Homo sapiens: one gene and its partners. The protein of the gene in region 2 interacts with the protein of the main gene of each other region in a pairwise test. Each region holds a gene or a part of one and is shown on either strand. Other genes may lie near its edges.

Region 1 (3,750 bases), on a different chromosome or scaffold from region 2:
CCTTTTCCCATCTCCTTTGCATTTCACAATTTCTTCTACTTCTCTCTTTCCATCTCCTTTAGAAGGGTTTATGGGTAAGGACTGAGAAGAAATAAAAGGCCACAGCAGGGCAGCAAGAGGAAAGGAGTAAGTGGGAGGGAGTCACCAGTAGGAAGCAGGATGAAAGAGATGCAGTCTTTCATTTGGAGACAAGGGGTAGGTTTTTCACACGTAAGGTGTGCATCCATAAATAAGGATCTTGTACGTTGGCTCATGTGTAAGTGCAAAATAAAGAGAAACAATGGTTACTGTCCCCAGAGTGGAAGAACAATAAGCAAATTAAATGAACTGGAGTTTCTGTGAATGCTTCTGTTATTAAAAATACTATTTTAAGGCCGGGCTTGGTGGCTCATGCCAGTAATCCCAGCACTTTGGGAGGCCAAGGCGGGCGGATCATGAGGTCAGGAGTTCAAGACCAGCCTGACCAACATGCTGAAACCCCGTCTCTACGAAAAACAAAAAAATTAGCCAGGTGTGGTGGCACGTGCCTGTAATCCCAGCTACTCAGGAGGCTGAGGCAGGAGAATCGCTTGAACCCAGGAGGTGGAGGTTGCAGTGAGCAGAGATCGAGCCACCGCACTCCAGCCTGGGTGACAGAAGGAGACTCTGTCTCAAAAAAAAATTTTTAAGAAAAAAGTATATTCGATAAATCTATTGCACACCTGTTGTCTTTTACTAGGGATAATGTCTTCAGCAAAGACACTGGAATCCAGAGTAAATATACTGTGCTCACATTTTTTGGGAATTCACACATCTCAAATTCTATTGCGGAAGTCCAGGTTTCTTCACCAATTTCATGCAAGGTAGTATACTTTAAACAGGTGTGTATCCTTTCATCAGAATCACATCCAGAACAAATTCACAACACTGCCCTTTATTACTACTCTACTTGAGACAGATATCAACTGGTGGTCATTCTTTAGCTATATCATAAGCACAACCTGAAAATTGTATACCTTTGTCTACTTTAAGCTACAAAGCCTATCACTTTCATGACTAATCAATTTGATGCACTGAAAATACAAGCCAAAATATTAATTATGTTAAATGATGTCTAGGAAGGGTACCTCTTTCTACAGATTATTTGAATAATGAATTTAACCTCATATTCTTCAAATACTGTACAATTAGAATTTTTTTCTTACGCAATATTTTTTCTAGAGGGGCCTATTTGGTCCTATTAGGCACAAACATGATGTGAGAGGAAATGGTGAGTGTTGAGGAGAGTCCCTCTGGGGCTCTGGACTACAAGTGAGAAAAACTACTTTTCCTGTTGGCCATTTCTTCATTGGCAGCACTTACCCATTGGAAGCACTTGTTTATTTGGGGTCTGAATGGGAAGAGTGGCTGTCTGGGCTGGTGAACAGAGGCCTATTCTGGATCTAACTACAATTTTCCCTGTCTCAGGCTGTGGCCCCAACTTTGTTTTTAATCTATTTTTTCATTCACAAACTAAAGAATACATCCTACAGAATACCTAAAACTCCACCAGGGTTTCAGAAGCTACGTGGAATGCGGTATTGTGAATATTTCACAAGCTCCTTTTCCAACCTTCACATAAGCTTTCACGAACTATGCTTAACTCGTACTTCGATAGAAGCTAAAACACAGGTGTTTTCCTGACATCACAAAGTGTCCAACGTGACATCTACTCATCTCCTTTGAAAGCCTCAGGGGCAGTTAGGGTGACCCTGGCTACATCAAACACTGAGTTATCAGAGGCACATTAGGATGAGGATGTAGCTTTGGTAAAGATTTATTTAACAACGCTCAGAATCTTCTCACTTGACAGGGAACCTTCCCATGGATTTCAATCAGAGAACATGTAGCTAGAAAAGAGAAAAATATGTTTTGTCTAATCTTGACATATCCTGCACATCTTAGAACATCTACTCAGTCTTTTCATTTCTGACAATGATTCAAAGAAAGAATTATCTTTGCCTTAAAACATATAATGTTCCATTTCTTTACATTAGAGAACTCATCAAAGTAGAATGCCGTCCAAATCTCTAAGACACACCATAAGAAACAAATGGCACCGTTATTTATTTGAATTTTCAAAATAATATTTGCATTACCTCTGTATTAACAACTTCCATTGGTCTTTTCTTGATTTCTCCTATGTCCAAGTAACTGAGGAAAAAACAAACAAACAATAAGAGTTGCTTTTATAGACTTTAAGTCAGTAATTTATTTTTAAAAATCATAAAAAAATAAAGCAACTCATAGGAAATTCTCAACCTTAAAGCAAAAACAAATAGCTACTAATGAAAAGCAATTACAATAGTAAAAACTGTTTGCAGTGTCACCAACCAGAGCTGACATATGTCTACCCTAAACTTCAAGAGAAGGAAAGTCTTAGAAATACATACATCTATTAGAGAACATTTTTCCCTCTTAATAGTTAGCTGCTTACTATATACACTATATTCTTACAGATTTGATTTTTTAAAAGAGTGGCTTATGTGCAAAGCTGCTTAACTGTTCCATTAAATACAGGCTTTAGGTCAAAGGAAGTACTGATAGCGTGCATTAGGGTAACAACTGGGAAAGGCTGAGAAATTATTGTCTCTATGAGAGCACCTTAATGATACAAAAACACTCACTCATGTGGGATGACTTTGGTAATTGGTTCAGCTAAGAAACAGATGGGTGGACTAGTTAACCTCTGGAGACCCCTATTATTCCATTACTATTTGCTCTAGATACTAACAGTGATCATTCTTTAGCTGTTACATAAGCACAACCTGAAAACTGTATACCTTTGTCAACTTCACGTGTAATATCACTGTGATGTGGTTCCAGTTTTAAATGGTCCCTAAACTGTGCTTCATACATAAAATGTGCTAAATAAACATTTTAATATTAAAAAGTATAAATCTAACATATAATTTATAATGATAGATCAATCCTTTACCCCAACTACTACAATTGCCAACTTGTCCCAAAAAAAGCTTATGTTAGAATTAATTTTGGCTATTGAAATGTTTTTATTGTTGCTGTTTGCCTTTTTGGATAAAATACTTTAGTTAATTCATATCTCTGGAAATTGTCATACAATGCCCCTATATAAAAGTAGTCATATTTTTAAAACAGTGCAAACACTCCGTCTTAGCAATAAAATGGGTCTTTTGTGGACCTGCAGGGGCTGAGTTTTGAAATAATACCAAAATATTCTGTCATGTGCAGGAAAGTGGTTTCAGATCCACAAGATTAATGCTGCAGAGTCAACTTCCAACAATGCACAGGGAAAGTTTTGGGGGAAATACTCTCTAGAATCCTCTGCTGTAAAATAAAGGTTGTGAATGTATGGTCTCACATTTGAAATAAATAAGGGTTTAATAGCTACCTGATGTTTAGTTATCGTTTCAAAAATATTAGAAAAATCTAAGTGAAAGCAATTCAAGCAGCGATTTGATCAGTTCCATTTGAAAAAGATGTTGCTGTCTTTCCCAACATTTAGGGTCTAAATGAAAGCCCACGAATTGTCCTCAATATCGTTTGGGCTTTCTTTTGTTCTGACAGTTTCTCCATTCTTTACATAAACTTATAAGTGCTAAGTTTCAAATATATTCAACATTCAAGTATTCTTGGCTTCTATCATTATAACCGTAGATACTACTTCTTTAACACAAATAAAATAGTCATCTGTCAGCATGGAAACCTAACCATGGACACTGTTATAACAAATTCAGTTTTTTGTGTATGAAC
Region 2 (3,750 bases):
GGCATGTTTGTATTTATCTCTCAGGAAGCTCTCAGAACCCAGCCCTTTTATGCCTTTTATGGAGACGACTTAAGCATGTAGGCATGCTTAATTAAACCATTGGCCTTTGGTGATCAACGTAATCTTTAGCCCTCTCTTCCCCAGGTTAGTGGGTGGGGCTGAAAGTTCCAAGGATCTAATCCTGCCTTGGTCTTTCTGGTGATAAGCCCCCTTCTGAAGCTGCCCAGGGCCTATCTGCGTCAATCAGCTCATTAGCATACAAAATGACAGCACTTTGGAGATTCCAGGGATTCTAGGAGTAGTAAGACGGGAAACAGGATGAAGACCAAGTAGAGATTTCAACAAAATGCAAAGCTGTTGGAGGGGAGACAAGTTCAGATGTGTCAGAAATTTCCCTCTGGTGACTATGTGGGACTAGAGGACTAGAGGGGCTGGAACTGGAAGCAGGTGCCTTTCAGTGTCAGACATGTCGTGAGGGTTTTTTTTTTTTTTTTTTTTGAGATGGAGTTTTGCTCTTGTTGCCAGGGCTGGAGTGCAATGGTGCGATCTCGGCTCACTGCAACCTCTGCCTCCCAGATTCAAGCGATTCTCCTGCCTCAGCCTCCCAAGTAGCTGGGATTACAGGCGCCTGCCACCTTGCCCAGCTACTTTTTGTATTTTTAGTAGAGACGGGGTTTCACTATGTTGGCCAGGCTGGTCTTAAACTCCCAACCTCAGGTGATCCATTCGCCTCGGCCTCCCAAAGTGCTGGGATTACAGGTGTGAGCCACCACTCCCAGCCAAGTTGTGAGGGCTTTAAGACTGTGGCAGACGGTATGGATTAAACAGATTTAGGAAGAAAAATCTACAGGACTTGTTTGTTGAAGTCTGGGCTTAGGTGAGGGAGAGACAGACTCAGGGATAACTGCACAATGGAACTTCCTGTGGTAACCAAAATGTAATGACTGTTGTCCAGTACACACTGGCCGCTTGTGGCCGCCGAACACTGAAAATATGACTAATGTGACGCAGCTGTTTAATTTTATTTAGCTTTAATTTTAATTAAATCTAGGAAGGATTCCCTATCACACATCTAGGGTGTAGTAGGAAGCACACTGTTCCAGGCTTTGTTCTTTTATTCCATTTAATGCTTCCAGCAACCTTAGGAGGTATAAGATATTCTTTCCTTTGTAGAAAAAGTAAATAGGCTCAGGAATGAGTCCTTGCCCAGGTAGTAAGGAGTTCAGCCAGTACTGATTTGTTGGCCAGGCTGTTGCTGCTGTATCCTACCTCCTTCCCCCAAGGAGCCTGCAGCATCTCCTTGTCAGGAAAATGCCGTCCTCTTGAGTTGGTAGCATTGTTCCTCCATGTGGCCCTCCTTATCTGTTCCCACCCCGCCCCCCAAGCTAACATGGACAGTTGAATGATAAGCACACTGTGCAGGGGCTGGTCTTTTTCCTGGAGCTGCTCTGCCTGCCGCCTCTTCTATCTGCCTAATGGCAACTCTTTCAACATTTCCGGGGAAGGAGAAACTGTAGAAAACTAAACTGTGCCTTATTTGTAATGATTTGGTGGTAAAGAGGTAGAAATGAGTGCCTTAAAGTGTTGGGGTCACAGTGGACCAGACAATGCCCAGGCCGGTGGGAAGGGTATGGGACATGAGCCAGGAGTTACTTTATAGCTTGTTCCCAGCCCCGTGGGGGAAGTTGACAAAGTCACTGTCTCTTAGTCTCAATTTTCACTTCTGAAAAATTAGGGCATTTGGTTTCATGTAACCTTTAAGATCCTGCCCGCTCTGAAATTCTGTCATTTTACATTTTGTTGGAGGTTTACCTTCTAGAACATGTCTTACGTATCCTCTTGAGGTGGGGTAAAGGCAGGTGGGTCCACAAGCCCCTGGCCTCTGTCTTGGCGTGTTTTAACATTGGCTTGTTAAGTAACACGTTTATTTGAGTTAATGTGTCACATCTGGTGGACAAACTGTATGTAAAATGCTGAATGCTTTAGTGGATGGCAGAGTTCCCAGTAAAATATCAGGTATATTTGTTTGCCATTTCAAGCTGCACTGATGTTAGGAAGAAAGGCGCAAGAATATATAATACACAACTTGGGGCTGGCCTGTTAGAAGGGTTCACTATCGGCCTTGGCCAGGCTGTGGGTCATAGGAGTCGCCACCTCATCGGGTTATTGAGGTTAACTGAGATAGTGCGTGTAAAACGCTTAGCATTTTCCCTTGAATCTCTATTAAAGGCTGAAAAAGTGGCAGTAATTAATGTTGCTCTTTGAATTAATTTGTGACCAAATTAAACTAAATTTGAATTAGATTCTTTTTCTAGTGGTGGGTTTTGCTGTTTTCCTGGTTTGGGTGTATACGTCCAAGCAGCTCTGTTTGGTGGGACTGGTTTCAGGAATCCAATTAACTTATTTCCATCATTACAAAATAAGGCATTTTTCCCATTATAATTAAGTTCAACAGAATAAAAAGTAATTGGTTAAGTGGAGTGCGTTCAAATTAAGGGTTCATATTTTCTGTAAATTGAAGAAAATAACTCATCCTGAAGATCCCTTATTATTAGTAATGGCTGAGATTAAGTTTTACCAGAACCATGATTACACTGAAATGTAGTTGTGGTGACTGCCTTGGAAGAGTGGTGCTAGCGTGAGGCGGTTGAGAGTAACAGACACTGTACACTTTATTAAGTGCCTTTCAGATACGCGTCTCCCTTGAATGTCTGCAGCAGCCCCGTCGGTGATGTGCATGTTGGGATCCCCATTTGGGAGATGGAGAAACAGGTTTAGAGAGGTCTACCTGGCTGGGGGAAACAGGTTTAGAGAGGTCTACCTGGCTGGGGGAAATAGGTTTAGAGAGGTCTACCTGGCTGGGGGAAACAGGTTTAGAGAGGTCTACCTGGCTGGGGGAAACAGGTTTAGAGAGGTCTACCTGGCTGGGGAAAGGGTGGTGTTTCCTTGTCTCCAGATCCTGTGTTTTCTGCACCTTAGTCCTAATGCTGCTTCAGGTGGGGGTGTTGTGGTTTCAAGGCTAAGCCTCTCCTTTGCAGTTCCAGAAGCTTAATTTTTTGCCCATTTGTGCCTTGTTTCCAGTTCAGGTGACCCTAGTCATGCTAATCAAACTCACCAGAAACCTATCAGCTGGATCGCAGATGGTTCATTTGTGGTTAGAAATATGACTGTCACATGTGCTTGAAGACTGTTGCTCAGTGATTTGATTTGATTTTTGAGATGGAGTCTTGCTCTGTCACTCAGTGTGGAGTGCAGTGGCACGATCTCGGCTCACTGCAACCTCTGCCTCCCGGGTTCAAGCGATTCTCCTGTCTTAGCCTCCAGAGTAGCTGGGATTACAGGTGCGCACCACCATACCTGGCTTATTTTTGTATTTTTATTAGAGACACGGTTTCACCATGTTGGCCAGGCTGGTCTCGACCTCCTTACTTTAGGTGATCCGGCCGCCTCGGCCTCCCAAAGTGCTGGGATTACAGGTGTGAGCCTCCACATCCAGCCTTGCTCAGTGATTTCTGCCGCCACACTCTTCTCCTCTCCCAAGCCTACGTGGGAACCTGATGGCTGTGAAAAAGGAAGTTTGTGGGAATCACATCTAGAATGAAGGGAGAGGAGGATATTAATGAGCAGGGTCTGGCCGTTGAGCTTCCATAGCATGCAGTCATCTGTCTTGCTGAGGGTCATGCTGGGAAGGGCTTGCTTGAAGGCTCCCGGTCTTCCAGAGCTGCCTTGGTGTAGTCAGAATGCAGTGGA
Region 3 (3,750 bases), on a different chromosome or scaffold from region 2:
TGTGGCTCTCAACATGGCCTTTCTCACACGGCCTTTCTGTGGCACAGGTGTGTAAGGTGAGCTGCACCGGTAACCACTGAGACTGGATTAGCATTTTCCAATACCCTTGCCTTAGCTGACAAAACTTCAAAGCCCTGGGGTCAAGAACAAGTGCAGAGCTGAGATCCACGTGCCGATGTGTACACGGATCTCAGACGTGATCCAGTTACTTAGACAACAGTGGAGTGTGTGGGTTCCCGTTCAGCTATGGTGAGTGGGGTTGTAGAAGTTGGGAGTGAATTCTCACTTGTCTGCTTCCCCTGGAGTACAGTTCGGTGTCCTCTCATGCTACCTTTTGCCTTTTTTATCCTTTGGTTTTGGTCCGTACAGAAAATTGGAAACCACTGAGAAGTACAAAATGAGAGCAAGAACAAAAACCACCCTGAATTTCACCACCCAGAGCCAGAGTATGGGATGAGCACTGGGGCCAGGCCCTCCTCCTCCTCTCTGCAGATGGATTACAGGATTTGCATGTGTTACACTGTAGTGGTGGCATGTGCTAGCCTATAGCCTGTTCCCCCCCGCCAGGGCAGTGTTGACAACACTGTGTCATTCCCTGTAGCTGAGTTGTTACATTGTTTGCACTGTTCCACTGCTCAAATGCTAGTGTTTCCTTGTACCTCTTCCTGCCTTTAAACTTCGGGAAGTTTGAGCCAGAGCAACTGGGACAGCAGAGGTGTGGACAGTGTGGGTTTACTGGCACCAATGTGTGACAACAGACACGGCGAAGCTTCCCAAGCCTTGGTGTCCAGCGGTTTCCTTGGGGTTGATCACATGCTGTGGGGGTGGCTGACTTTTAGTTCCCAGCCCCTCCAGAGGTGGAGTGGACACCTTGTGGCCCCAGGCCCCTGCCCTAAATCACGTACTTAGGCTGCCTGTGGGGCCCAAGGCCCCTACTCTTGGAGATGAGGCCAAAGGCAAGGTTAATTCTTCACTATGCAGAGGGTGTACCCTGTGCCAAGGCTTTTGATGTCTGGTACCAGACACCATTTGAGGAGTAGCCACTGCCTGCAGAGGGTAGGGGAGGCTGGGTCTGGCCGTGTGTGCCGTAGGCCTGGCTGGTGGTGGGGGTGAGCGGGCAGGGAGCTCACTCGTGTCTTGAAGACGCTGACTCTTTCAAGTCTGGACAGTGCTGCGGCTGTGAAGTTCTGAGGTTGCCAGAAAGATGGAGACGTGGGTGGAATGTCACCTTACTTCAATGTGAGCTTGCTGTCCAGAGGTAGTGTCTCACTTTGAACTTGGGAGAGAGGGGATGTCCAGTCTGCCTGCCCGCTGTGTCCTGGTTCCTAACAGTGGAGCTTCTTCACCCTGATGGAAGCGCGGAGGCCCAGGGCTCCTCCAGGGGTTCTGACTCCTCCAGAGGGACGGGGCCTCTGCTCCTGGCATCGTGCATGGCCCAGAGGAGGGAGGAATCTAGAATTCTCTCCACTCAATGTGGTTGCCTGTGGCAGTTGGCTTCTTGGAGGAGGTCATTTGAGGTTGAGAGCTCCATGAGTTGGGACTCGTGGTGGATGCAGATACCGCTGCAGGCTGGGCGGGTGGGGGGCCTCTTCATCCTTGGTTGTAGGTGCTTTGCCAAGAGGGAGATGTCTTGCTGTGTTGACTCGTCTTTTGAAGGTTGTGTGCTGGTGTGATTCTCTTTATGGAAGCACCTGGTAAAACTCTGGGAGGCTGGCATGGTGGCTCATGCCTGTAATCCCAGCATTTTGAGGGGCCAAGGTGAGAGGATCCCTTGAGGCCAGCAGTTCGAGGCCAGTCTGGCCTCAACATAGTGAGATCTCGTATCTACAAAGAAAAAAAAAAGCACAAGTCCAAGAGTGGGCAGTGCATCTAGTTTAAGTACCCCTAATCTGAAATTCACAATCCTCCAAAATCCGAAATTTTGTGAGCATAGGGAAGATGCTCAAAGGAAATGCTCACTGGAATGTTTCGGATTTTGGATTTTTAGGTTAGGGATGCTGAGCCAGTAAGTATTTGCAAATATTCCAAAACCTGAACAAATCTGAAGTGCAAAGCACTTTTCGTCCCGAGCATTTGGGATGAGGGATGGGCAGCCTGCAGCATGTGAGCAAAGAGCAGTGTTTGGCTCTTGGCAGTGCCCCTTTACCTGTGCGTTCACTTTTTTTTTTTTTTTTTTTTGGTGGAGCGGAGTGTCTCTTTGTCACCCAGGCTGGAGTGCAGTGGCACGGTCTTGGCTCACTGCAACCTCCACCTCCTGGGTTCAAGCGATTCTCCTGCCTCAGCCTCCTGAGTAGCTGGGATTATAGGAATGAGCCACCACGCCTGACTAATTTTTATATTTTTAGTAGAGATGGGGTTTTGCCATGTTGGCCAGGCTGGTCTTGAACTCCTGACCTCAGGTGATCTGCCCACCTTGGCTTCCCAAAGCTCTAGGATTAGAGGCGTGAGCCACTGCGCCCGGCCTGCTCTTGGTTTTGAAAGTGATGTCAGCAGTATAACTTCGTGTAGGAAATGTTTGCCTTAGGTGGTGTGGAAGATGGACCATGTGATTTGATGCAGTCCAGGCAGCAGATTACAAAATCCCGCCTCGATGGTGTGGCTTGGGGTTTCTCCTGACCTTGGTGTAGGGCACGCCTTGCTGCCTCCCCTTTCTCTAGTTGAACTGCAGGACAGTGGGTACAGTTGTGAAGTTACTGCCACTTTCAACATCTCTTGGCAAATTCCTCAATAATCTTTTTAAAATTCCTTTAGAATTGTGGGTTTGTGAACTTTTCAGCATCGGGTGGAGTGAAATTGTTACCCTTTCTCTCAGTGAGAAATTGGAGGGGATTATTGTGGCAGGAGGAGTAGGTTTGGGGGATGCGAGTGGGGCAGGGAGAGGGGCATAGGGTGAGTTTTATCAGGAGCTGCTTTCAAGGAGAGGACTAGGGTGAGTGGAACCATGCTGAGCTGGCAGGCAGCACCCTGTGGCTGGTCCGCAAACATGGGGGCTGCTCCCCACACCTGGAGGCTTTTTATGCCTCTTAGATCTCAGACTCTTAGATCTGATGCACCCGCTCCCCAGAAAACCGCCCACGCTTAGCACATCCACCTCCATTCAGTTTTAGAGGTTCCATGTACTCCTAGCCTCTCTGCATTTCACTGAGGCCCTGCACCGCTGCAGGATGCCCCTGAGCTGGGCGAGACCCTAGGCTCTGTCCCATGGTTGCTTTGTTACTGTGCTGCTGCTGGGAAGCTTCCTGTTGAAGGGTTTTGAGGCGTAGCCAAGATGGAAGTTGTGGGCAGCAACGATTCTTTCCCAGGTAGCAGTTTAGAACCGCAAGGGACGGAGGGCCTGCCACCTGGGCAGTCAGGAGACTCTTGGCCCGAGGGACTGAGGCCAGGTTTTCCAAGCCGAAGATGAGGACACAGGGTGACGAGTGATACATTGATTTTGACATGTGTGTTTATGAGGGAGAAATCCTCCCAGTGGAGTCTGTGTTTCCGAAAACAACTGTGAGAGCCACGGCAGCACGTGGGAAAGGCAGAGCCAGAGAACCATCTGATTCGCTCTGCCCAGGGGGTGGAGAGAGAGCACCTGGCTGCTGGAGTGTGGGTGTGGATGGTGCCTGGTGTCCTCAGTGCCCTGTTGGGGCTGCCCAGGCGGCTCTCTGGAGGGGGGCTTGGGGCAGTGCCAACTCAGTCTGGGAGTTCAGGGCTCAGCCACTCGACTCCTGGCAGAGAACGGAGGGTGTGGAGATGGGTGGTTAC

What was found.
Region 1: the proteins of FAM118A (region 2) and DCDC2 interact in binary tests that used the Homo sapiens proteins (3 or more experiments, as listed by UniProt).
Region 3: the proteins of FAM118A (region 2) and WDR4 interact in binary tests that used the Homo sapiens proteins (3 or more experiments, as listed by UniProt).

Annotation. Positions count from the first base shown.
Region 1 is NC_000006.12:24,351,452-24,355,201, forward strand, and holds part of DCDC2 (doublecortin domain-containing protein 2), read right to left. Parts: intron 2,173-3,750; coding exon 2,118-2,172; intron 1-2,117. UniProt on the Homo sapiens protein: Protein that plays a role in the inhibition of canonical Wnt signaling pathway. May be involved in neuronal migration during development of the cerebral neocortex. Involved in the control of ciliogenesis and ciliary length.
Region 2 is NC_000022.11:45,312,842-45,316,591, forward strand, and holds part of FAM118A (protein FAM118A), read left to right. Parts: intron 1-3,750.
Region 3 is NC_000021.9:42,865,822-42,869,571, reverse strand, and holds part of WDR4 (tRNA (guanine-N(7)-)-methyltransferase non-catalytic subunit WDR4), read left to right. Parts: intron 1-3,750. UniProt on the Homo sapiens protein: Non-catalytic component of the METTL1-WDR4 methyltransferase complex required for the formation of N(7)-methylguanine in a subset of RNA species, such as tRNAs, mRNAs and microRNAs (miRNAs).